Homo sapiens: one gene and its partners. The protein of the gene in region 4 purifies or fractionates together with the protein of the main gene of each other region. This does not show direct contact. Each region holds a gene or a part of one and is shown on either strand. Other genes may lie near its edges. The genes, in order: ACTL6A, JAZF1, EPC2 and BRD8.

Region 1 (7,035 bases), on a different chromosome or scaffold from region 4:
TTTCCAAATAGATTGTAAGTTTTTTTGAGTGTCGGGTCTAGACCATACAATTCTTTCTTTTTTTTTTTTTTTTATAAATCCAGCAGTAGTATCATCAGAAGGCCATACAATTCTTCTGTACTTCCTATTATCATTCTGATCACATTCTGGGCCTCTAATAAGTATTTATTGAATTGAATAACATTTACTTCATATTTTAGGTCTGTTAGATTAATTACATTTGGGACAGGTCTGGGGGCTGGAGGGACCAAAAAGAAGTTCTATATATCTAGAAGGCAAAGGTAATCTCTATATAAAGTAATGTGGTATGAAGTTGATCTGTAAAATCAGTAGGTTCTGTATACTAAAGTATTAATTGTTAAGTCATAGAAACAATTTCTCAAAAGATGCTATATTCATCTTCAACTATGCATTATTTCCAAGTTACTAATCTTATATTCTAGTTGAAGACTGGGATAGTTTCCAAGCTATTTTGGATCATACCTACAAAATGCATGTCAAATCAGAAGCCAGTCTCCATCCTGTTCTCATGTCAGAGGCACCGGTGAGATAAAGATTTTCTTTTTCACGTTTCTCTAGTTGTTTTTTTTTTTTCTTTTTTTTTTCCTTTAGTTTTCTACTCATTTGATGAACATTTTTCTTTAAAGAGGCATAGAAATTCATATTTTGAATTTGAAAATTAGGGAAAAGGATTAATTTTTTAACACTATTATAACTTTTATTTTACTATTCCAATAAATAAAATATCCAGAGAACAACAAAACACCCTAATGGATTCTTGTGGTTATTTATGTATTTCTAGGGATTTGTTTAACATTTTATTTCCTAGGACTGCTTCCCATTTTGAATTATGAATCATTTCTTGTGCCCCAAGGGCAGCGTATATCTACTTTTATTCAAGTTTCCAAGAAAGAATTGAGATGTTGAACAAGGGCTGGAAATTTCTGGACCAAAGTCTCTTGTGAAATACATTTGGTACATAGACAAAAAGGTCCCAGAAAGCAAGCATAATGGTCATAAATTATCAGTATCTTATTGTTACTAACTTACAGTATTCTTTTATGAATACCAACTATAAGTGGGAGAATTTGGTGGTCTAAAATTCATACTTAGGATTTGGATTACCATATTTACTCTTTAGATTTAATAATATGTTTATAAGAATCCTGGTTTCCTCATATGTGGAAAAGTCAGGAGCAATTTTATTATTAAAGAATTTTAATTCTTCTCTGATAGATTTATTAAATTTAATCTACATCTAAAGAAATAAATATTATAGAGGTTTTTTTATTTTTATGAGATATTATGAAAGATGATTTCCCATGGTATTTTATTCTGTTCTTAATGTTTTATATCTTTGTTAATATAGTGCTAGATTTTATCTGGAGATAAATCAACTTTTTAATTCTTAATAACTTGCATTTCTTTTTCCCCTCTTCTCAAGTGGAATACTAGAGCAAAGAGAGAGAAACTGACAGAGTTAATGTTTGAACACTACAACATCCCTGCCTTCTTCCTTTGCAAAACTGCAGTTTTGACAGCGTATCCTTGAAAGAGTAATACCTTTCCTCTTGAAGTATGTACGATACTAATGAATATGATAACTCTGGGAGAAGACATACGCCAATTATTGCTTGTTCCGAAGTTGTTTTTTTCCCTTTTCTCTTGCTTTTTAGCTATTCATCTTTTAGTATTTCTTGTTAGAACTGATGATACACCAGAAGGTATGAGGGAAATAAAATAACACTCAAATTCTGAGTGTTAAGACGTTTTTGTTTTTGTTTTTAAGAAGGGGCATGTGGATAGAAGGCAATGTTTTAACCAGTTGGCTTAGGTGAATTGAAAGATTGCCATTTTAAAATCTCCTTCCCTTCCAATATCATAGAAAACTGGAAATTGGCTGTAAATTCATTCTCCTTCAAATTTAGTCAGTCATCAAATCCTGCCTGTTCTTCCCTGCTATTTGCTTCTCTCTGTCCTACTGCCACAGCATTAGGTGGAAGCTATTTCCAGGATTACTGAAGCACGTCCTCTTGTCTGCCCATTCTTTACGCTGTTGCTCTAATAATCTTTCTATTTTTATTTATTTATTTATTTGGTAGAGATGGAGTTTCGCCATGTTGCCCAGGCTGCTCTCGAACTCCTGGACTCAAGCGATATGCTTGCCTCAGTCTCCCAAAGTGCTGGGATTACAGGCATGAGCCACCGTGCCCAGCCTCTAATAATCTTTCTAAAGTGCTAGTCTGCTTTAAGCCAGAATCGTCTTCTACATTTCTTCCTTTATTTTACTTTCAGACCGTGCTGAGGTACTTGCAGTTCTCTGACCTCGCTGTGTTCTCTTGCTTCTTGGTCTTCCCACATGCTCCTACTCTTGCCCATATTCCCTTCCCCAGATTTTACTATTGAATATCTCAGGAATAGGTTTCCCTTTTACATCACCATCTTCCCTGGGACATCCTGAGCTTTTCTTTTTACAGCTTTATTCATCATCTACTTCACTAAACAGGATAACCTTCAGGGAAAAGGCAGTTTTGGTGCACCATTGTGTGTCTACTGTGTTAAAGGAATTTTAGTGCCAGGTGAGCAGCCTCCCTCCTTCCTCCCTCCCTCCTTATTAAGCACCAGACTTAGTAGACACCTAATAGATGCTCAGTAAATATTTGATGAATGAGTGAATGTCCCTACTCCTAAACATCAGTTTAGTATATTCAGGTAGTATAGGCCATCTGCAGCACAGAACTGTGGAAAATGGGATCTGCCAATATTTACCAACTGTGGAATTCACCTGGAATAGTTTTCCCGCTCATTGAGTTGGAGGAGATAGGAACTGCCATATGGCTGCCAAACTGCTGAAACAGCTCTTTTTCAATGCTATGTGAGAATGGTTATAGTCCCTAGCTCAATTATCACAACCTCCCACTGTTCTTACCAAGTTTCTGTATATTTTGTTAAATAAATGCATCTCAGTTTGTTGTAAGCTCTTTGATCAGTCTCCAGAGACTTTTAGTGATTGTGTTAATTTTGACCAGCTTAATAGTAGCTGTTCCTAGGATAAAGGTTTCCCTGAGTGCCTGATACCTCCATTCTGGAATTCCTGCCTCTTACTATTTGTTTTTAAGCCAGAAATATTATTTTATACCAATTTTTATCCCTAGATTCACTGTAATACATTTTTAACTATAAGGTACATGTTTAAGAAATAGTTTCTGAAACATTATAAGAGCCTGCCCTTTACAATAAACATTATTTTAGCGGCCTTGATACTTTCTTTTCCTTAATGTTTTAAACTAGATTTGCTAATGGTCGTTCTACTGGGCTGATTTTGGACAGTGGAGCCACTCATACCACTGCAATTCCAGTCCACGATGGCTATGTCCTTCAACAAGGTAAATGTATTTAACCAGGATACACTGAGATGATTTTAGATGCCATGAGGATGCACATAATGAAATAAAATGATGAGTAGCACTATTAAAGCATATCAGTTTCTGAATAAGATTTTTTTTAAGTATGTTAAAAATCTTTAGTATATAATGTATATTTAAAACTGATGCATGGCTTTATTTATGTGTTGAAGGATAGTTCAGTTCATTCTACCTGAAAAAGTTATTCACATAAATACACCCACAGAGGAAATTCGTTCAAGGAAGTTTGGACTTACTGCCCTCTTAGCCTTGTTTCATCTGTTTCATAGGCATTGTGAAATCCCCTCTTGCTGGAGACTTTATTACTATGCAGTGCAGAGAACTCTTCCAAGAAATGAATATTGAATTGGTTCCTCCATATATGATTGCATCAAAAGTAAGTAATTATTGAATTTTCTTTGTAGAACTTACTTCTAGCTCCCCCACCCCTATGAAGTGAACTCCATTAACCTAGCATCTCTTGGTACTCTCAGGAAGCTGTTCGTGAAGGATCTCCAGCAAACTGGAAAAGAAAAGAGAAGTTGCCTCAGGTTACGAGGTCTTGGCACAATTATATGTGTAATGTAAGTAACCCTCATTCTCTTTACAAAAATGTTACAGGCTTTTTGCATGAGTATTAAAAAAAGTTATATATAGGCTGTAAATCCTTGAGTAAAATATGGGCACTTTATATTTTCAAGCTCTTTATTTTTTTTATTACTAAATACATTTTGAAGATTAAATAGAACATGATCTCAGGGTCACACTCTATATTTTTAATGATATTTTACTAACAAAAGAGCTTTTCTGTGAGAGGCATGCTTTTCATACTTGCCAAACAAATCTCTACAAATTACTACATACTCACTTGGATTACTATGGTGAGACCTGGAAGGAATTTTGGTTTTATGCTATTCTGAACATTTTTGGCTGAGAAAATGGTTTTAGGTTTTGTAGAGGCCTACTAGTATGTCTCAGTTATGTTCTGTTTCCCAGCATCAGTCAGCAATATCAAAAATGTGTTTTTGTTCAGAACAAGGAACCCATGAGAGATTCTCTTTACTAAAAACCCATCTCTGAACATATGGCTTACTGATGGGGAAGAGGTTAGTAAAACAACCTGATGCCACAGATACGCCTTAATTTCTTAAAAAAAAAACAAAAAAAAACTGTTACTTTAGGTTCAGGGGTACATGTGCAGGTTTGTTAAATGGGTAAACTCATGTCACGGAAGTTTGTTGTACAGATTATTGTCCCCCAGGTACTAAGCCTAGTACCCAATAGTTATTTTTTCTGCTCCATTCCCTCGTCCCTCAGGGAGGTCCAACTGTCTGTTGTTCCCTTCTTTGTGTCCATGTGTTCTCATCATCTAGCTCTCACTTGTAAGTGAGAACGTGCTGTATTTGGTTTTCTGTTCCTGCATTAGTTTGCTGAGGATAATGGCCTCCAGCTCCATCCCTGTTCCTTCAAAGGACATGATCTCATTCTTTTTTTTTTTTTTTCACTACATAATATTCTGTGGTCTGTATGTACCACATTTTCTTAATCCAGTCTTCCACCGACGGGCATTTAAGTTGATTCCATGTCTTTGCTATTGTGAATAGTGGTGCAGTGTACATACACATACATGTGTCTTTATGATAAACTGATTTATATTCCTTTGGGTATATACCCAGTAATGAGATTGCCAGGTCAAGTGGTAGTTCTGGGCCAGGCATGGTGGCTCACGCCTGTAATTTGAGAGGCTGAGGTGGGTGGATCCCTTGAGCTCAGGAGTTAGAGACCAGCCTGGGAAACATGGCAAAACCCTGTCTCTACAAAAACAGAAAAATTAGCTAAGTGGGGCCGGGTGCAGTGGCTCACGCCTGTAATCCCAGCACTTGGGGAGGCCGAGGCGGGTGGATCACCTGAGGTCAGGAGTTGGAGACCAGCCTGGCCAACATGGTGAAGCCCTGTCTCTAAAAATATAAAAAAATTAGCTGGGTGTGGTGGTGGGTGCCTGTAATCCCAGCTACTTGGGAGGCTGAGGCAGGAGAATTGCTTGAACCCAGGAGATGGATGTTGCAGTGAGCCAACACGGTGCCACTGCGCTCCTGCCTGGGCGACAGAGTGAGACTCCATTTCAAAGAAAAAGAAAAATTAGCTAAGTGTGGGGGTGTGCACCTTTAGTCCCAGCTACTTGGGAGACTGAGGTGGGAGAATCACCTGAGCCCTGTGAGGTCGAGGCTGCAGTGAGCTGTGATTGTACCAGTGCCTTCTAGCCTGGGTAACGAGTGAGAACCCATCTCAAAAAAGAAAAAAAAACAAATGGTAGTTCTGTTTTTAGCTCTTTGAGGAATTGCCACATGGCTTTCAACAATGGTTGAACTAATTTACATTCTCACCAAAAGTGAATAAACGTTCGCTTTTCTCTGCAGCCGTGTCAGCAGCATCTGTTATTTATTTAATTTTTTCAAGACAGAGTCTTGCTTTGTCACCCAGGCTGGAGCGCAGTGGTGCAGTCTCGGCTCACTGCAACCTCCATCTCCTGGGTTCAAGCAATTCTCCTACCTCAGCCTCCTGAGTAGCTGGGACTACAGGTGTGTGCCACCACACCTGGCTAATTTTTGTATTCTTAGTTGGCCAGGCTGGTCTCTAACCCTTGACCTTGTGATCCACCCGCCTCAGCCTCCCAAAGTGCTGGGATTACAGGCGTGAGCCACTGTGCCCGGCCCTATTTTTTCACTTTTTAATAATAAATAATAGCCATTCTGACTGGTGTGAGATGGTGTATCATTGGGGTTTTGATTTTCATTTATCTGATGGTCAGTGATATTGAGCTTTTTTTCATATGCTGTTGGCCGCATGTATGTTTTCTTTTGAAGTGTCTATTAGTGTCCTTTGCCCACTTTTTAATGAGGCTTTTTGTTGTTGTTGTTCCTTATAGAAGCTAGGTATTAGACCTTTGTTAGATACATAGTTTGCAAATATTTTCTCCTATTCTGTAGGTTGTTTGCTTACTCTGTTGATAGAAATTAATGTGTATCCAGCAAAAGAAACTAAGAGTAAAATTATATGAGTCATAATTTACTATGAGAGGGATCATATCTAACAGGTTTTTTAAAAATTATTTTATTTATATCATATACACACACACACACACACACACACACACACACACATTTTAAAGACAGGGTTGGCTGGGCACGGTGGCTCATGCCTGTAATGCCAGCACTTTGGGAGGCCAAGGCAGTGGATCACTTGAGGCAAGGAGTTCAAGACTATCCTGGCCAACATGGTGAGACCCCATCTCTACTAAAAATACAAAAATTAGCTGGGTTTGGTGCTGAGCACCTGTAATCCCAGCTACTTGGGAGGCTGAGGCAGGAGAATTGCTTGAACATGGGAGATGGAGGTTGCATTGAGCCAAGATTGTGCCACTGCATTCCAGCCTGGACGACAAGAGCAAGACTCTGTCTCAAAAAATAAATAAAGACAGGGTCTCTCTCTGTCACCCAGGCTGGAGTGCAGTGGTGCAGTTGTAGTTCACTGCAGTCTCAAACACCTGGGCTCCCCCTGCCTCAGCCTCCTCAGTAGGGAGGACTACAGGTGCATGCCACCATGCCTGGCTAATTTTTTATTTTTATAGAGA
Region 2 (4,754 bases), on a different chromosome or scaffold from region 4:
GTCACTTGTATTTGTTTGTGGAAGCAGAGTTTGTATATTGTTAGAATCCTTTAAAAAGTTTTTTGAGTCTAGGGCAAACCAGTATGAGGCATTCATATGCCAGCTGTTAGGACACAGCAGTCCTAGGAAGCAATAGCTTTGGAGACTTTCAGCTTCCAGATAGGTTATATACTTAGGTAAAATATGTTCAACAATGGGAGCATTTTTGTTGGAGTTAATAATTATGGACCATGTTAATCCAAAAGTATCCTTGGAATATTTATTATAGTAGTAGACACTGTTCATCTTACTAGCCTAGAACTTATTTTAAAATAGTTTAAGTAAGTAAGTCCAAGCTTAATTTGTTATTGACAGAAAAGTAATACAGCCTAATCTAATCTAAGCAAAAATGTAAGGGAATAAAGTCTACATGCATCAACTGAACAGCCTTAGAATGAGGAACTGAATGGATATATTAATTTCCATGGTAAACTTGATACTGGTTTTCATAATGGACACTAAGGAAAATAAAGAGCCATATTTATTTTTGGGTCAGAGGCAGTTTATTTTAAATGTGATTTCATTTACATTTATAAGCAGCTTTTCTTGACAGGAATTTTGATTAAATTGCCTTCAGTTCTAAAACAAACCTCTGTTGCTTTCAGACTTAATGTGCTCTGTCCCCAACAAAACATATGAAAATATAATTTAAAGCACAGTTTTCACAGACACAGTACAATACATTCACTATACACAGTATAACAAAATATTCCCATCCTTACCTGTTTAGTAATACTGTCACAATGAATAAGTAAATAGAAATTGGAATTTATCTTTGAAAGCATTGAAAGAAATTTAACATGCACAATGACTATTTTATGACTGTTTAGCTGTTGAACTACTGATCCAGCCTGCAGTTTCTTGCACTAGAAAGAGCGAAGCTAAATAATAATTGCTGGCCTAAAAAATTTTTTTTGGTCAATTGTAGGTAGATATGAAATAGCCAAGTGGGGCCTTCTTATGCACCAACTAGTTGCGTCTCATGTCTGGATCACCCTTTTAAACATAGGATAACACTGTATATTCAGGACCAAGACCATACTTCAGATCTGAGGAAATTTTTAGAGGGCAGTGTTTTTATAAATACTTTGAATCCCTCATAATGAAGGATTTTAGAACTTATGAATATAGAGGTTTACTCATCTAACAAACAGAACTGTCATCCTTTCAAAATGTCTGAAAATTGAGGAGGGACCCCTGCTTCCCAGTTATATGTGATGTAAGACTTTTCATCAAATGGGAACATGGGAAGAAACTTTATAAGCAATTTGAGTTTGTTTTATGGGCAGTTAGCTATCTCAAAGCATTTTTTATTGCATTATTAGGCAACTGGTAAACTCTCGTGTTTAAGGAATAGCACTTGGGAGAAAAGAACACTCAAGGCATGATGGTACTGTCGGTGAGGAAAAACTTAAGGAATGGTCCAGATGTAGATTACTCTAATAGGTCGTATTAGTCATGCTTTTCTTTGACCACCTGCTGCAAGAAGCACTTAATTGTCAATAAGGCTCATTTTCCTATTTCAGCAAAGTGTTTGTTTTATAAAGCTAAACAGACATTTCCAATGAGAATGCAGACCTCTCTACAATGTGATGAGAAAAGTACCTTTTAAAAAAAGTAAAAAATGAGCATGAAGAAGAGGCAATAGGGGTCTTAACAAAAGTGTTCATCTTTGAAACGTGCTTAGAATTTTAGTTCTGATTTGCAACCCACAGGTTTGGTAGGGCAGTGGTTGCAAGAATTGGCAACACATAAACATTAAATTGTTGGCAATAGAGAACTACAAAGTGCTTTAAAACTTCATCTGAAGATGAAGATATAACTAAACTTCACACACACACACTTTGCACTGAAGTATTTCAAAGTCTTTTCTAACAGATTTCAGGGAAAAAAGTATTTCACTAAATGGGTATCTTGGTCCGCAGATATCAATAGGCATAAATTGAATCCCTTGTACCCAGCAGGCACTCAATCAATGTGTGTTAAATGAATGAACGAACTGAATAGACTATTTTGTACAAAATGCCATTTATAACACTAAAATGACTAGTAAGTCAGATGGCAAGATTTTCAGCTTTTTAAAGGGCAAAAGGATTTGCAAGATAATATAAAACACAGAAAGCACACCTTTACGTATGTTATTTAAATATGAAAATATTTTTAGCATATTATGTTAAACATTCTTTCTTATTTATATTTCCATTACCTAAAGTCTTTCTACTCACAAATACTAACTCCATTATGTAAGGCATGGTAACCAGTTTGATAATGAAGGTATTATTTTGGTTTTGAACATATGTGAGTTGATGTGTTGAAAACTTCAATCACATTACAATCTTGAAAAAAAAATCTCAGTGCCAGCCCCTCCTCCCCCCAGGTTGATACCACCGCAATACAATTCAACAATATGCAACATGCCCTCAATTTTATTTTGTTTTGGGGGAAATGTGCTGAAGAACCTAGAGCTTTTTTTGTTTAGCACCTTATATCAAAGTAATGAAAATGGGTATGATGATTACATGTGCAAATGTACAAAATCATTAACTCTACAAAGATACATCATTCCAAAATTACAGAAAAAATTTAAAGCATGCATTTAATTCTTTTTCTTTAAAGGGTTGCTGAATGCTTCCCCTGAAAAAAGGTGGCTGTTTTCAAAATCAGCAACTGCTGGTGAGGATTTCTTGGCACAGTTATGACCAGCATGTTATTGCTGCATCTTCCTGATAATCTCAGCCGACACCGGGGGATGGAAATTGATTGTGTGGTGCCGCAGGCCCTGAGCTGTCTTGTAACTCTTCCCACAGCGACACTTGAATGGTTTGCGGACACGAATCTGTGTTCTGTGACCATTCTTAGCGTGATACTTTATGCCATTCACATTCTGTGGAGAAGACAAAAATATTTATTACATGGATTCACAGGATACCTGTCAAACTTCGGAAACCTCAATTTGGGTCTGGATTGCAGTTCCTGGATGGCAGCTGTTTAGAGTGTAGTCTTTTGCAAGGACTCCAGTTGGGACCCTTCAAGGACATTCTGGTGTGTCGGTCATGGGCTGTACGGATGGTCACACACACAGCTGACTCAAAATTTCAGATGTGCCTCAATTACTCTGAAAATGAAAGTACTGATTTCTTCCAATTTTATATAAAATATATATTTAGGACTTACAGACTGTATAAAGAAAATCCTCTGAATCTTTTCCACTCTAAAGAAAGTTAACAGTGAACAATCCTACACAAATATCCTCAGCATGACCAACAAAATATCTTTCTAAAGAAAAACATCAGGGCATATCCCAAAAGTTTAACATATAGAAATTTTTGATTTGGAAACTCAATTTACAGCTTGCTTCTAGATAACTGTGTTAACAGTTCCCTACCATGCCTTAACCAGAGTTTTTGTCAGTTTTCTGCTCTGCACTAAGCCAGTATCTCTGATGCCACTGTGGGAGCTACTTGTTGCCCAAATCTTGTCCCCGCCGTACAGTTGTACATGTTTAATAAGCACCTGTAGTCAGACTAGTCCTTACCTTAAGTATTACATTCCAAACATACAATGAACTTTAAAAATTTAAGGTTATATAATGTTAGTCACTAAGATTGGACTTCTTAGCATCTGGATACTAAAGTTATCAAAATGCTTTCTAAATTTCTGTTTGTCGGTTTTGCTAGTTCACCAGCATATTCTATGTAAGATTCCGTATTCTATGTAAGAGTCACTCTCTACAGTTTTAACCACCAGTAATCCTCATCCCAATTAAATGGTGAGGAAATGGGCTTGAGGGTAGTAAGTAACTGGTGGAAGATCTAAGAAGGGACGGCGGACGTGTGGTATTTGAGATAGGTCTTAATTTCCAAGTCAGCAATTGCCAGATTAGAGAGTAAGGGAACACAGAAGAGACAGCCTGAAACAAAAAGCACAGATTTTAGGAGAGTGAGCTGTTTCCTAAAATATTACCTAAATCCAGTCCTGCTAGAGCCAGTCCCTTGCCCAACTGAAGGATTCCAACACAAATTGTTCCCACTCTTCATGGGATGCCTTCAAAGAGCTCCCAGAAAACAGCTCCCTGCTGTTGTCTCATGAATACCTAGCACAGTGCCTGGCACATTGTCGATGCTAAGTCTTTGTGAGTGAATGAAGTTACAACAGCACTTCCCAAGTTCACGCCTCACTAGTCTGGAAGAAGGGTTGCTACTAAATATAAACGTGGTGGTGATTACTACACTAGAGATGTGCAGTACACATGAATGCTTTTTTAAAAGTCCTTGGAAGAGAACTCTGCTGGACTTTGTTGAACCCAGGGGTGCCAAGTAGCAGCTGGCTATGCTCAGAGTCTGAAGGTTGTCCAGTGATTTGAAGCAGAAGGACAAACACTCTCCCCTGAACACCTGGCTCCAGGCCTTCTGCACCTCAGCCCTGTCCTTCCAGCATCAATCCTTTCAAACATAAGGTACTTCAGTCTTGTTAAGAGGCATGTTGGGGGTTTCAGAGCCTACTGGGGCAGGAAAGGGGAGGGTAGTGGTGGTGGTAGAATCAGACCCACTGAAATGTTAGATGGGTAGATATGCCCTGCCAGTCCCTGGCGGTTCCATCCCCTCCGAGGCCCAGGCACATGAGTGAAGAGGCCAACGTGTGTATCCAGCCCAAGTGAGCCTTCAGATGATTCTAGCCCCAACTGGTGTCTTAGAGCAACTGCATGAGACCCCAGG
Region 3 (7,035 bases), on a different chromosome or scaffold from region 4:
TGCTGTGCCAGAAAACAGAAGGAAGGAGGAAAACACACATATTAACTTGTAATGTTTGAAAGCGCTCTCTCTTTTTGTTTGTTTGTTTCTAAGAGACAGGGCCTCAGTCTCACTCTGTCATCCAGGCTGGCGTGCAGTGGCGCTATCACAGTTCACTGCAGCCTTGAATTCCCGGGCTCAAGGAATCCTCCAGTTTCAGCCTCCTAAGTAGCTGAGACTACAGGTACATGCCACTCCACCCAGCTGATGTTTTTATTTTTTGTAGACACGAAGCCATACTATGTTGCCCAAGCTGGTCTCAAAACTCCTGGCCTCAAGCTGTAAAAATGTTTAATTGGCATGAGAAAAAATGTGAAACTCTATCACAGAATAATGTATGGGAATACTCTACATTTTACTCTTCCATCAACCTTCATATTTGTTATCCTGTATAAGTGAAAATTGTTACCAAAAAAATGAGTGTTGCCTATAAGACACAGACTTAAGTTTTTACAAAAAAATGTAATCTTGGCCGGGCATGGTGGCTCACACCTGTAATCCCAGCACTTTGGGAGGCAGAAGCAGGCAGATCACGAGGTCAAGAGATCAAGACCATTCTGGCCAAGATGGTGAAACCCCATCTCTACTAAAAATACACAGATTAGCTGGGCGTGGTGGCGTGTGCCTATAGTCCCAAGCTACTTGGGAAGCTGAGGCAGGAGAATCACTTGAACCAGGGAGGCAGAGGTTGCAGTGAGCCAAGATCGCGCCATTGCACTCCAGCCTGGGTGACAGAGCAAGACCCTGTCTCCAAAAAAAAAAAAAACAAAAAAAAAAGTAATCTTTAAAACTAACTTTTCAGATACTTATTAAACAGATGAGGAAATGGGGCTCAATGAGGTTAAGTAATTTACCTCACCCATAAGGCAAGTGGCAGAGGCCAGGATTGGAACCTAAATCACAATTTCAAAGTTCCAACAACTTCACCAAATTAGCAGCAAAACTGAATGCTGCTTGTTGACTCCCCAACCAAGACATGAGACACGTCCTTAGCCCATTTAAAAAAAAAAAAGCAAGCAAGCAGGGAAGCAAAGATAGGAGTTAAGAGAGGTAGCAGATAGGCTGACTCTCCAGTCTGCATTCCTCTGACTTTATAGCAACAGCTGCTTACAGTAAAACAAAAAACCTAAAAGAAGACAGATACAATGAAACTGCTGAGGAGAAACTGGAAGTGACTGGCATCTTCCTCCACAGTGTTAACCCTGTAAGAAGCGGTTCTGCATGATAGAATATGTAAATTTAAAGCTCTGTCCCATTTAAATAGTATAGACAAGGCAAATAATCGATGATCAACTTTAAGTTAAAATCAAATAATCATGATGGACCTTCTGCCATCTGCATTGGTCTCCTTCAGGGCTTATTCCTATCAGCCTCTCCTCCTCATGCTGTCTCTACACACCCATTACTGTTTTTCTACTTCAACTCTACTTAAAACTAAATGAAGATGCAGAGCTGCATTGTTTACCAATACAACGAAACTCAATCCAAGTGACCAGCAACATGCTAAGTGCCTGTATTACAAACTTTTTATCACTTAAGACAGAAAGTGACAGAAGTACCTGGATTGCTATCCTGCCTGTCTTGGGTACTGAATAAAACACACATGATACCTTCCCTCAAGACATTTAGTCTTGTTGGGGAAATAAGTGTCTACTCTCTCTCGTGCACATGCTCTTTTTCATACATATATAAAATTCACACACACACCATTACACACACACTCAAGTGAGAAAAATGATACTAGAAAATTAAAATAAACTCAAGTGGTAAAGACTAAAAGTACTACTGAACTTCAGAATACTTACAGCAATGAGTAAGCCTAGTAAAGTGAAGAAAATTTCATGAAAGCAAGATGATCATAACCAAAACATACACAGAATGGATTGCTCTACTAGGCTCTAGGAAAAATTAATATTAGATAGAGGACGAATATAATCGATCCTCATAAAAGAACGATAAGCCAAATTGACAGGATCTCAGCAGTATTAAAGAGTTAAACCTTAAGCATTAATTTCTTCCCAATATTTAATGTCACATTTGTTAGTTCTTTTCATCTAATTATAATCCTGGACAATATGCCAGTAGATAGACATGCGGTTTCAGAGGTTCAAGTAATTTTTAGAGTCAAAGGTACTTTAAAGGTCACTCAGTCCAATTCTATTTCACAAATGAGAAAACTAAGGGCCAGGAAGGTTAAATAATTTCTACGCGGTCAAACAAAACTCATCCCTTACAACTTTGAAAATTAATAAGTGTGAAGAGTTTGCTTTTTTTTAAAAGGACACTGGAGACTTCTTTTACAGTCTTTGATTCAAATTTCATTTAAAACATAACACATACAAATTATTCTAAGCTCATTAAAACATCTTACAAATTTATGGTTTGTAAAAACACACTAAGTATACAAATTCACCTTGGGACAAATCATGGATTAAAATGATTTAACACTTTAACTTCCTAACTTTTGATCATGCTATATTACCATCGGTAGCAGATCTCTCAGGGCAGCTCTCCAGCTGAGAGGGTAACACTTCTCAACATAGGTATACTAACTTCCCCTTCTCTTTGAATGGCAGACTCAGAGGTAGATACCTGATGCAAGCCAGACCAATAACGCTCTCTATCTCAAGAATCTGGAATTTTGAACTTTAAATGGGAAAATAAATGATAGAACAGTAAAGCTATAAAGGACCTTAGATATCTTCTAGTTCTCAACCCATTCATTTTACAGATGAAGCAGTACAACGGTGAAGCAAGAGCCCCAGAGTCAATCAGCCTGAGTGCAAATTCTGGCTCTAGCATGTTCTTTTTTAGACGGATGATCTTAGGCGAGTTACTTAATTTCTAAAGTTTCAGTTTCTTCCTCTGAAAAAGAAGTAGTAACACCTATATGTCCTACTCTTAAAATCAACTCTAAACCATCTATTAAGTTTAACAAAGTGCCTGGCACATGCTCAAACACTCAACAACACACACTCAAATGTTAGCTGAGATAGTAGTGATGAACAACCTGAGGCTCAGAAAAGCTAAGCAACTTCCAAATTATATGGCCATTTAACCCACTTAGGCATAAATGGGTTAATCCATGACAACCAGAACTAGAAACAAAAACTCCAGAATCATACTTCAGTGGTCTTTCATCTATACCACCCTACAAACTCCTAGGCCTAACATTCAAAACTGCCTATAATTTAGTCTAATTCTACCTTTTTTCCAACCTAATCTCCACCCCTATTTTTACTCCTTCATTCACCAAATATTTACTGAGTGCTTCTATGTTTTAAACGGTTTTTAGTGCTGAAGATGTAACAGGGATAAAATGAAGGGGAAGACAGAAGCAAAAGATGTCTGCATGTCCGAACGAAAACAGGGGAATGATATGGTCAGCAACATCAGAGTGCTATCCTCCTAAAGTTTCTATTAGCAGGAAGAATAGGAAATGATTGACAGAAAGCATCTAACATGGAAGAACCTTCCTTTGGTCTACTCAGCATCCTCAGAACTTCCTTTAGATATTCTTATGCTCAAATATTTGCTTCAACATACACCATACAACCAAACCTGAAAGCCCAAATTGTTACGCCTCTCTCCAAGAAGCCTTCTTTATGACATGCAATGAATCACCTCATGCCTCTCAACTACACTAACATTTAACTTTCTCTAATGCTCTTTTGATGTCTGTCAGGTTGTCTTAACCCTGTAGTTTTTGCTAACTTTCCAGATACATGTTTTTGGACTTAATGGTTCATTTAAGTTCTATGAAATTGAAGTCTGCATCTTCTTTTATTCCTAACATTTCAGTACACGGCCTTACACATACTTTTCCTATACAGAACACTTTAGTTTCCCAATATCTTATTTAGATAACAACTGGCATTTAGATAATACCTGGCATGTCATTTGCTTTTGTTAGAAGAAGAAATGCTTCATGTTTTTACAGTATCAACTTACAAAACTGCATTTTATACCCTCTCCATTATGAAACATGAAATATATTAGTGCCAATAGTAATTCTGAAAAGGTATCAATCAGGATTATATTCCTACTGTATCAATTCAAAATATCACTTAAAATATTAACATAACGGCAAAAATTAGACAACATATGAGAGGAGATATGGCAATTCAAATTAGTCATGGATCTTCTTTAAAAATAAGGTGAATCACATGATTCATGTAGACTGGTACATTCTGGTATGAAAAAGTATCTCACAGAAATCTACACACACCTATGAGAGTTACTTAAAACAAGATAAAGATTTATCATTACAACCATATCGGCGTGTGAAAAGATTCTATATTTAAAGAGGCCTCTGACTCAAGAGGAAAAGAGGATATAATATTTAGATATACATAGTACCAAAGTAAGCAACCAAAAAGAATTCCTGGAAGAAGACTTTATCAAATGCTGCTAATAAATTTTATATATAGATAGATATTGGGGGAGGGGGAGAAAAGACACAAATATAGCTCTTGGAACAGAAAAAGAAATAGAAGCCCATTCAACACTCAACAAACATTTTGCAAGCATGTATTATGTGCCAGGCACAGTTCCAGGCACTTGGAATATATTAATGAGCAAAATAAGCAAAGATCTTTGCCCTTAGAGACATTATATCCTAGCAGGAGAAAAATCTAAACAATAAAATGGGACAGTTTCCCACAAATTTCTTATATGCTTAAGATAACATAAACAGTGGGATAAATATAATGGTGCCAATACAGGGGAAAGCAAAGTTCACAAACTGCTAAGAAAAAAGAAAGAAAATCTGAAAACCCAAGAGCAAAAGTCAGACCAAATTAAGTAATGAAAAAACTACACTTCTTAATAATTTAACAGTCTAACCAAATTGGCAACTTCTAAGGTTTCCAAAGTTATAAAAAGTAAAATATTATTTACAAAAGCTATAATGAACTTAATCACAGTTCAGAAGATAACTCTGGATTCTGTAAGAACCCTGAATATGCAGCATGGTGACTATGAGTATATGCTTTTGTGACACCAATGTCAAGGGTCTGAATTTCAGCCCTGCACTAGCAGCAAGACCTTTCAGCTTTTCCTCTATAAAACAGAAATGGTAATACCTCACAGGGCTGTTACCAGAATTAAATGATAATCAAAAACTGGAAACAACTAAAAAATCAGAGAGATGCATAAAGATAGCATACCAAATTCACTGGAATACTACTCAGCAATATAAAGGAACAGACTCATACAACAAGGATGAATCTTAAATGCATCGTACGGAACAAAGGAAGCTAGACATAAAAAAGTATGTATGATTCCATTTATATGAAATTGTAGAAAAGGCAACCTAATCTACAGTAAAACAAAACAAATCAACAATTGCTTGGACTAGGAGTGGAAAGGGACTGGTTGCAAAGGAGCACAAGGGAACTTCTCCAATGTTGGAAATGTTCTATATCTTGTTTTCATGTTTGTATGCATTTGTCAAAATTCATCAAACTCCACACTGTATATAGGTACTTTTTTTGTATGTAAAGTATACTTCAAAAAAAGTTTATTTAAAAAAAGGATTAAATGAAATAATATATGTAAAGCCCTTAACACAGTATCTCGGATATATGAAGTATTCAGTAAATGGCAAGTATTAGTAAAAACATCAACTACCACTATACAACACTCATGGGGAGGCGGCAGAACCGCTGGCTGCCTGATCTTTCTGGTCTAAATTCTAAATAAACATAAGTGTACAGTACTTGACCTAGACCAAGTGCCGTGAGGAGCATTACAAAGACCAAGTTAAAGGAGGATGCCAACTGGCAGCTCTTAGCAGAGGACAATGATAATAAGGATAGGGAAGAAAAGAAGTAAAAGATGTTTGGATGTCCAAAAGAAGAGGCTACACAGGATGACATGATTATCAATGATACAATGTTACCAATGCCCAAGAACACCTAAATCACCTCATCCAGGCATTGTCAGAATGTAACTCAGTCAGAATGTAACTCGAACTTGAATAATGACTTTGTTTATATAAACGAAGTCTAATGATAGTCCAATAGCTACACAGAAGAGACAGGCCTTAATTTTAAGGGTGGGTGGGGATAGAGGGGGAATGGGAAAAAGCCATCCATGAAGGCTTCAAAAGATTTTGCCAACCAAGCAGGACAGCACAGTTCAGAGACACCCAGCAACAATTGTGAATCCGTAAGCCAAGGTTGGTTTGTTTGTTACAAGCCTACTGATTTAAAAGAAAAAAATCTTATAAAAATAAGGAGTTAAGGACATCTAGATATTGAAAGTTACTTAAAATGCAATTCAAGTGAAACACAAAACATTTGTGAAATGTATGACATTTTACTGCTGCTTAGAAATATTTATCAAGGCAGAACCATTTTTATAAATACATAATTCTGTTTAATAACAGAAGTCCTGTAAGACCAGAGAAATGAATTTGCTGTCACTCATGAAAACACAAGTCTTCTGACATACATATTTAAAAAAGAAAGAAAAAGAAAAACTAATACTCCAATTGGACACTCTGGGAAGCAAAAGATTTCAGACTATAAATCTTAACTGTTACGGTTTGCTTAATTTTGATTTTAAGAATCTCCACTTTTAGCATGTATTAAAGAGGCAGAAAGGACAGGACAAAGAATCAGAGGTTCTGGGTTTCAACTCTAGTTTTATCAGAATTTGGATTTCTTCTTCCTTAAAATTGGGCAATTGAAGTAGGCTACTGAAAAGTATCCAAGTTTAGCACTCATGCTCTAGTTTGAAAATAATTCTTTCTAAAAGAGCTAATAAAAAAATTGCAAGGCGCGGCAGGGCACGGTGGCTCACGCCTGCAATCCCAGCACTTCGGGAGGCCGAGGCAGGTGGAGCAAGAGTCAAGAGATCGAAATCATTTTGGCCAACACGGTGAAACCTCGTCTCTACTAAAAATACAAAAATTAGCTGGGCATAGTGGCACGTGCCTGTAGTCCCAACTACTTGAGAGGCTGAGGCAGGAGAATCACTTGAACCCGGGAG
Region 4 (7,035 bases):
GAAGAGAAGATACAGTCTTTGTGAGGCAATGGAAAGGTATTCAATTAGTCCAGGAGTTAGAACATGAAATTCCTTGTTACATGGACATGTTGCAAACAAGAAAGGAAAATAAAAAATAACATTGTAGTCCCAAAGCAGTCTGCAAACAGGCATGAGATACAAACACAAGCTCTAAAAGCTGGGAGAAGTGTGTGGAAAAGGTCCATTAAAGGACATACGTTTTGAGTTGGTAGAGAAGGTGATAAATGAGACTAGCAAACCGAATGGAAGGTGTAGGCATCTGGTGGGGGTGGTGGGTGGCAATACGGAGAAAAATGTAATTAGAACAGGGATTATACTAAGGAATAAGGAGGTGTACATGTGAGTGAAGGGAACAAAATAAGGCTAAATTTGTGGAGGACTTTGGCAGATTGAGAAATTTATATTTGAGGTGATAGCTGTTATAAAGCCTTGAGTAGAATAACTATATTTGTTGAGAGCAGATAGGATTAAAGATAGAAAAGCTGACTAGGAGACTATGGCATTTATTCAGGAAAGGATGGACACTGAGAAAACTTATTGTGGGAGAAAACTGGGAAGAGGACTTGCTTACTGAATATAAGAGAAGGAAGGGTCAAAACAGAATTGTGGGTTCTGTAGACTAAGAAAATGGTGATGGGGTCGGGTGTGGTGGCTCACGCCTGTAATCCCAGCACTTTGGGAGGCAAAGGTGGGTGGATCCCCTGAGGTCAGAAGTTCAAGACCAGCCTAGTCAACATGGTGAAACCCCGTCTCTATAAATATACAAAAATTAGCCGGGCATGGTGGTGGGCACCTGTAATCTCAGCTACTCAGGAGGCTGAGGCAGGAGAATTGCTTGAACCCAGGAAGCAGAGGTTGCAGTGAGCCGAGATTGGGCCATTGTGCTCCAGCCTGGGCAACAAGAGTGAAAGTTCGTTCAAAAAAAAAAAAAAAAAAAAAGAAAAGAAAAGAAAATGGTGATGGGGATAAGGAAATTGGGAAGAAGCAGTGATTTTGGAGATAAAGGAAATGTGATTTTTATTTTAGAAATGTTACAGCAGGTGGTAGAGCATCTAAAGGGAATTGACTTTTGGATGCATGGAGAAATGACACCAGAATTCATATAAGAAGTAAAGGTAGAGAGATTTGGGAGCCACCTGAATAGAGGTCAAAGTTGAAACCTCAAAGTATATATACATTTTTTTAAAATACATTAATAAGAAAGCAGAGGACCAAGCATGAACATAGAAGGTAGGGATTTATTGAAAGTTGTAAAAGGGAGAGGACAAAGAAAGATATAAAAAAACCAAGATAGTGGTGTAATGAGAGCAAGGGAAGATATATTTTAAGCTTAATGTTTCTCAACATCAATTTGGATATGACCAGAAGGATGCCAAAGGCAATCCTAAAGTGTGTTTTGAAGGTTTAATGGTTCATAGGTTAAAAATGTTTATACACTGAGGAAAATATCCCCTGCCCCCTCAATTTGTTTGCCTTACGGTTTAGTTATGGATGATTTGGGCTAGAGGAAAATAATTGAGCTAGCTATGCTCCAGTTCTTTCCCTTCTTTTGGTGTGAATATGAGGAATTCCAAGTAAAAATAATTATTAGGTAATATTAATGTCTCTATTATACTGTATTGTATGGTGCAATATCTCTGTTATACTGACATGGGGCTTTCTTTATTCCCAAAGACAAATATAATTTCATCTCATGTCTCCCTTCAGCAAGATTTTAATTCTTCCTAATGATGAATACTTGAATACAAATAAATTTCTGGCCCCTTATTTTTCTACTGAACTCGGGAGATGGAGATGCCTCAGGAATATTTATTTGAATGAATTTAATGCATGTTTTCCTGTGTATTTACAGATGGGACACGAGTGGGTTTGGCTGGATTCTGAACAAGATCATCCCAATGACTCTGAGTTGAGCAATGACTGCAGGTCCCTCTTCAGCTCATGGGACTCCAGTCTGGATCTTGATGTGGGCAACTGGAGGGAAACTGAGGATCCAGAGGCTGAGGAACTAGAGGAAAGCAGCCCGGAGAGAGAACCTAGTGAACTGCTTGTTGGGGATGGAGGCAGTGAGGAATCTCAGGAAGCGGCAAGGAAAGCCAGCCACCAGAACCTCCTCCACTTTCTCTCTGAGGTAACAGTGAGCTCTTATTTCCAAAGCTGGAAAAGCCTCAACTTTCTAAGAGAATGCTTATCCTTACATGCTTCTACCACTCTTAATATTGTTTACTAAAATATAAGCTCCACAGTGGCAGGGATTAAGTTCATTGCTATGTCCTCAGCACTTGGTGCTGATACAGAATATGCACCAAATACATGCTTTTTGGGCCGGGTGCAGTGGCTCACGCCTGTAATCCCAGCACTTTGGGAGGCTGAGGCCAGTGGATCACTTGAGGTTGGGAGTTCGAGACCAGCCTGGCCAACATGGTGAAACCCCATCTCTACTAAAAATACAAAAATGGCCGGGCGCAGTGGCTCATGCCTGTAATCCCAGCACTTTAGGAGGCCGAGGCGGGCGGATCACTTGAGGTCAGGAGTTCAAGACCAGCCTGGCCAACATGGTGAAACCCCATCTCTACTAAAAATACAAAAAATTAGCCGGGCGTGGTGGCGGGCGCCTGTAATCCCAGCTGCTCGGGAGGCTGAGGCAGGAGAATCACTTGAACCTGAGAGGCGGAGGTTGCAGTGAGCTGAGATCACACCATTGCACTCCAGCCTGGGCGACAGAGCGAAACTCTGTCTCTAAATAAATAAATTAATTAAAATTAAAATTAAAATTAAAAAATTAGCCGGGCTTGGTGGCATGTGCCTGTAATCCCAGCTACCTGGGAGGCTGAGGCAGGAGAATCGCTTGAACCCGGGAGGCGGAAGTTGCAGTGAGCTGAGATCGTGCCATTGGACTCCAGCCTAGGTAACAGAGCGAGACTCCGTCTCAAAAGTAAAAAAATTAAAAATAAAAAAATACATGCTTTTTGACTGAATTTCTAATACTTCAGTCATTAGGGGCCTGGGTCATAAGGACTGCTTTATGAGTATCCTTGTAATTCATGCTTTTGGAGTTGTGGGAAGTTATACTTGCCCAAATTTTCCTTGAAGCTTAAAATGCTGTAACTTTAAGGTAGTATTTTTAAGTGTCATTACCTTGGTTAAGGGCTGAGGACCAGAAATAAACAGAATTGGACAGAGAGTTATATGTATGCTGTTATTGAACACATTTAGAAGACCCTAGATCAAGATCAGCAAGCATCCATTTCAAATGTTGCCACTTCTCTCTACAAGTGTCTGTGGTAGACAAAATTTTCAACACTTTATTCTAGACAGCCACTCCCAATTGATCAGAGTTGACAGCTGAGATGAAAAAGTAGAACATAAACTCCTGGAAGAGGCAAGAACCATATCTTTCTTGTTCACTGTAGTGTCCCCACCAACCAGCCCAGTGCCTGTGTATATAAGATATTTTGGCAGATTTTAGATGATTGTATTAATTAAACCATTTTGTCCTCTCAGACTTAGTCACTGTGACAGTGTTAGCATGTGGCATTGTTGATATGTGGATGATGATTTTCAGTGGTGTTCCTGTGCATCTAATAATAAACTTTGATTGCAGGTAGCTTATTTAATGGAGCCCTTGTGCATCAGCAGCAACGAATCAAGTGAAGGCTGCTGCCCTCCATCTGGTACCAGACAAGAAGGAAGGGAAATTAAAGCTAGCGAAGGAGAAAGGGAGCTCTGCAGAGAGACTGAAGAGCTTTCAGCTAAAGGAGACCCCTTAGTAGCTGAAAAGCCACTGGGAGAAAATGGAAAGCCAGAGGTGGCTTCAGCTCCCTCAGTTATTTGTACAGTTCAGGGACTACTCACAGAGAGTGAAGAGGTAAGAAAGTAACTTAAATCAGCTGTCTTGTTGGTCTTCTGCCTAGGGAAGCAGAACAGAGTAGTTAGAGCACATAGGCTAACTCCAGAAAGTTAAACTACCTGGATCCAAATCCTGGATTTAGCACCAGTTTTAGCTGTGTTACCTTTAGCATGTTAGTGAACATTTTAGAACTTCAGTTTTCTCTGCAGAAATGCAATAATAGCACCCTATTTTGTGGGATTGCTGTGAGGTTTAAATGAGATAATTCATGTAAAGCACTTAGCACAGTGCCTGGCTTATAGTAAGCAATCAGTAAAATTTAGAATACCGTCATCATTATTAATATTATCTGGCAGGTGGGGTGCAATGGCTCATGCCTGTAATCCCAGTGCTTTGGGAGGCAGAGGCAGTAGGATCTCTTGAGCTCAGGAGTTCAAGACCAGTCTGGGCAATACAGGGAGACACCATCTCTACAAAAAACAAAAAACAAATTAGCCAGGTATGGTGGCATGTTCCTGTAGTTCCAGCTACTTAGGGGTCTCGGGGGAGCCCAGGAGTGCAAGGCTGCAGTGAGCCATGATGATGCTACTGCACTCCAGCCTGGGCAACAGAGTGAGACCCTGTCTCAAAAAAAAAAAAAAAATTATCTGGCCAGCTAGAGTAGTTAACTCCAGGGCCACAGGTGATCATGATGGTTTTTAAAGAATCCAATGAGAATTGGGCAAATAATGCTTTTCCATTTTGCTGGAGGTGAGTGGCACAGAGTCAAAGTCCTCCAGCAAGATTGTTACCAAGAACTCATTAACTTAAATCTAGTTAAGTCAGCTTTCTTTAATTTCTTTTGTAGCTTTATGTAATTGACCTCTTCTCACCTTAAGGGCAGCCTTCATTTACTCTATGCAAGTAAAATTACTATGCAGAAAGTAAATCTCCTTCTAAAGTTTCCTGTTTCCTGGCATTCCTAGGGGGAGGCTCAGCAAGAATCCAAAGGGGAGGACCAGGGTGAAGTATATGTGTCAGAGATGGAAGACCAGCCCCCTTCAGGCGAGTGTGATGATGCCTTTAACATTAAGGAGACTCCCTTGGTGGATACACTTTTCAGCCATGCTACCTCCTCAAAGCTGTAAGCGTAGACTTTCATCCAAGTTTGTTAAGATTCGTACTTCTGTTTATGCCTATTTGAATCATGAAATGGATTACTTTTATAAGTTAAAGAAAATTAGAGTTGGAAAACACAAAAAATATAATTAATTAAGTATAATTTTAACATCATATAAATAGAAGTCTATATGCTCTCCTGTTATAAAACAAATATGTTTAATCAATATTAGGACTGTCTTTCAAGGCTAGGTGTGGTGGCTCACACCTGTAATTCCAGCACTTTGGGAGGCCAAGGCAGGAGGATCCCTTGATCCCAGGACTTTGAGACCAGCCTGGGCAACATAGGGAGACCATGCCTCTACAAAATAAAAATTAAAAAAAAATTAGCCAGGTATGGTGTCACTTGTCTATAGTCTCAGGTACTCCGGAAGCTGAGGTGGGAGGATCACCTGAGCCCAGGAGGTCAAGCTGCAGTGAGCCATGATTGTGCCACTGTACTCTAGCCAAGTCTGTATCACTCCAGCCTGGGTGATGGAGCTAATATTATACAAACTATGCCTAATATACAAACTATGGTGCTTTTTTTTTCTTTAATAGAGACAGGGTCTAGCTCCATCACCCAGGCTGGAGTGCAATGGGCACGATCATGACTCACTGCAGCTTGACTTCCTGAACTCAAGGGATCCTCCCACCTCAGGCTTCCAAGTAGCTGGGAATACAGCCATGGGCCACCACACCCAGCTGATTTTTTATTTTTTGTAGACAGGGCTGGCCTTGCTATATTGCCCAGGCTTGTCTTGAACTCCTGGTTTCAAGTGATCCTCCTACCTCAGCCTCCTAAAGTGTTGGGATTACAGGCTTGAGCCACTGTGCCTGGCCCAAACTATACCTCTTTTAAAAATATTAAAATAGATTTTATGAACTTGAAATGGAAAATTATTTTGATGGAGACAAGGAAGAGGATAAAAAAATTTTTTTTTAAAGAAAAAATTAGGCCAGGCGCAGTGGCTCACACCTGTAATCTCAGCACTTTGGGAGGCAGAGGCAGGAGGATTGCTTGAGCTCAGGATTTTGAGACTAGCCTGGGCAATATAGTGAAACCTCATCTTTACAAAAAATAAACAAAATTTATTGGGTGTGGGGGCATGCACCTGTAGTCCTAGCTACACAGGAGGCCAAGGCAGGAGGACTGCTTGAACTTGGGAGGTGAAGGTTACAGTGAGCTATGATCATGTCACTACACAGCCTGGGTGACAGAGCAAGACCCTGTCTCAGAAAACAAAACAAGAAATAAAAGAGAAGAAAAAAATTATTTTGAAGTTTGTGATCTTTGTTTCTTTTTCACATCTCTTAGGGGATTGTTTATGTCAAGCTTGTCTAATCCCTAGCCTGCAGCCCAGGACAGCTTTGAATGTGGCCAAACACAAATTCTTAAAACATTATGAGATTTATGCACTGACCCTTTTTTTTTCCCTTTTTTTTTTCTTTTTTTTTTTTTTTTTCCAGCTCATCAGCTATTGTTAGTGTATTTTATGTGTGGTCCAAGACAATTCTTCTTCTTCCTCCAGTGTGGCCCAGGGAAGCCAAAAGATTGGACACCCCTGGTTTATGCAATTGTCTCATCTTTGTATAGATAATTATAGGACTAAATAACACATTTTCAAATCTTAATGGGGGCTGTTTTTTTTTAACAGGAAACCAAAAAAATATTAATTTTTTTTTTTGAGATAGGATCTCACTCTGTTGCCCAAGTTAGAGTGCAATGGCATGATCTTGGCTCACTTCAGCCTCCGCCTCCTGGGCTCAGGTGATCCTCTCACCTCAGCCTCATGAATAGCTGGGAACACAGATGTGCACCACCACAACCAGCTGATTTTTTTGTATTTTTGTTAGAGACAGGGTTTCATCACATTGACCAGACTGGTCTCAAACTCCTGGACTCAAGCGATCCCCTGCCTTGGCCTCCCAAAGTCCTGGGATTATAGGCATGAACTACTGCATCTGGCATGAAGTGAATTACTTTTTAAAGCAGAAAAACAAAGTTGTTTTTATCTGTGACTCCT

What was found.
Region 1: the proteins of BRD8 (region 4) and ACTL6A fractionate together in Homo sapiens (co-fractionation; 4 studies listed by BioGRID and IntAct, with this or other methods). This does not show direct contact.
Region 2: the proteins of BRD8 (region 4) and JAZF1 purify together in Homo sapiens (affinity purification with mass spectrometry; 3 studies listed by BioGRID and IntAct, with this or other methods). This does not show direct contact.
Region 3: the proteins of BRD8 (region 4) and EPC2 purify together in Homo sapiens (affinity purification with mass spectrometry; 2 studies listed by BioGRID and IntAct, with this or other methods). This does not show direct contact.

Annotation. Positions count from the first base shown.
Region 1 is NC_000003.12:179,572,926-179,579,960, forward strand, and holds part of ACTL6A (actin-like protein 6A), read left to right. Parts: intron 1-443; coding exon 444-544; intron 545-1,444; coding exon 1,445-1,542; intron 1,543-3,291; coding exon 3,292-3,386; intron 3,387-3,694; coding exon 3,695-3,801; intron 3,802-3,836; exon of another isoform or gene 3,837-3,898; coding exon 3,899-3,988; intron 3,989-7,035.
Region 2 is NC_000007.14:27,830,054-27,834,807, forward strand, and holds the end of JAZF1 (juxtaposed with another zinc finger protein 1), read right to left. Parts: intron 2,924-4,754; coding exon 2,747-2,923; 3' UTR 524-2,746; downstream 1-523. UniProt on the Homo sapiens protein: Acts as a transcriptional corepressor of orphan nuclear receptor NR2C2. Inhibits expression of the gluconeogenesis enzyme PCK2 through inhibition of NR2C2 activity.
Region 3 is NC_000002.12:148,647,721-148,654,755, reverse strand, and holds part of EPC2 (enhancer of polycomb homolog 2), read right to left. Parts: intron 1-7,035. UniProt on the Homo sapiens protein: May play a role in transcription or DNA repair.
Region 4 is NC_000005.10:138,147,599-138,154,633, reverse strand, and holds part of BRD8 (bromodomain-containing protein 8), read left to right. Parts: intron 1-1,873; coding exon 1,874-2,152; intron 2,153-3,625; coding exon 3,626-3,889; intron 3,890-4,836; coding exon 4,837-4,994; intron 4,995-7,035. UniProt on the Homo sapiens protein: May act as a coactivator during transcriptional activation by hormone-activated nuclear receptors (NR). Isoform 2 stimulates transcriptional activation by AR/DHTR, ESR1/NR3A1, RXRA/NR2B1 and THRB/ERBA2.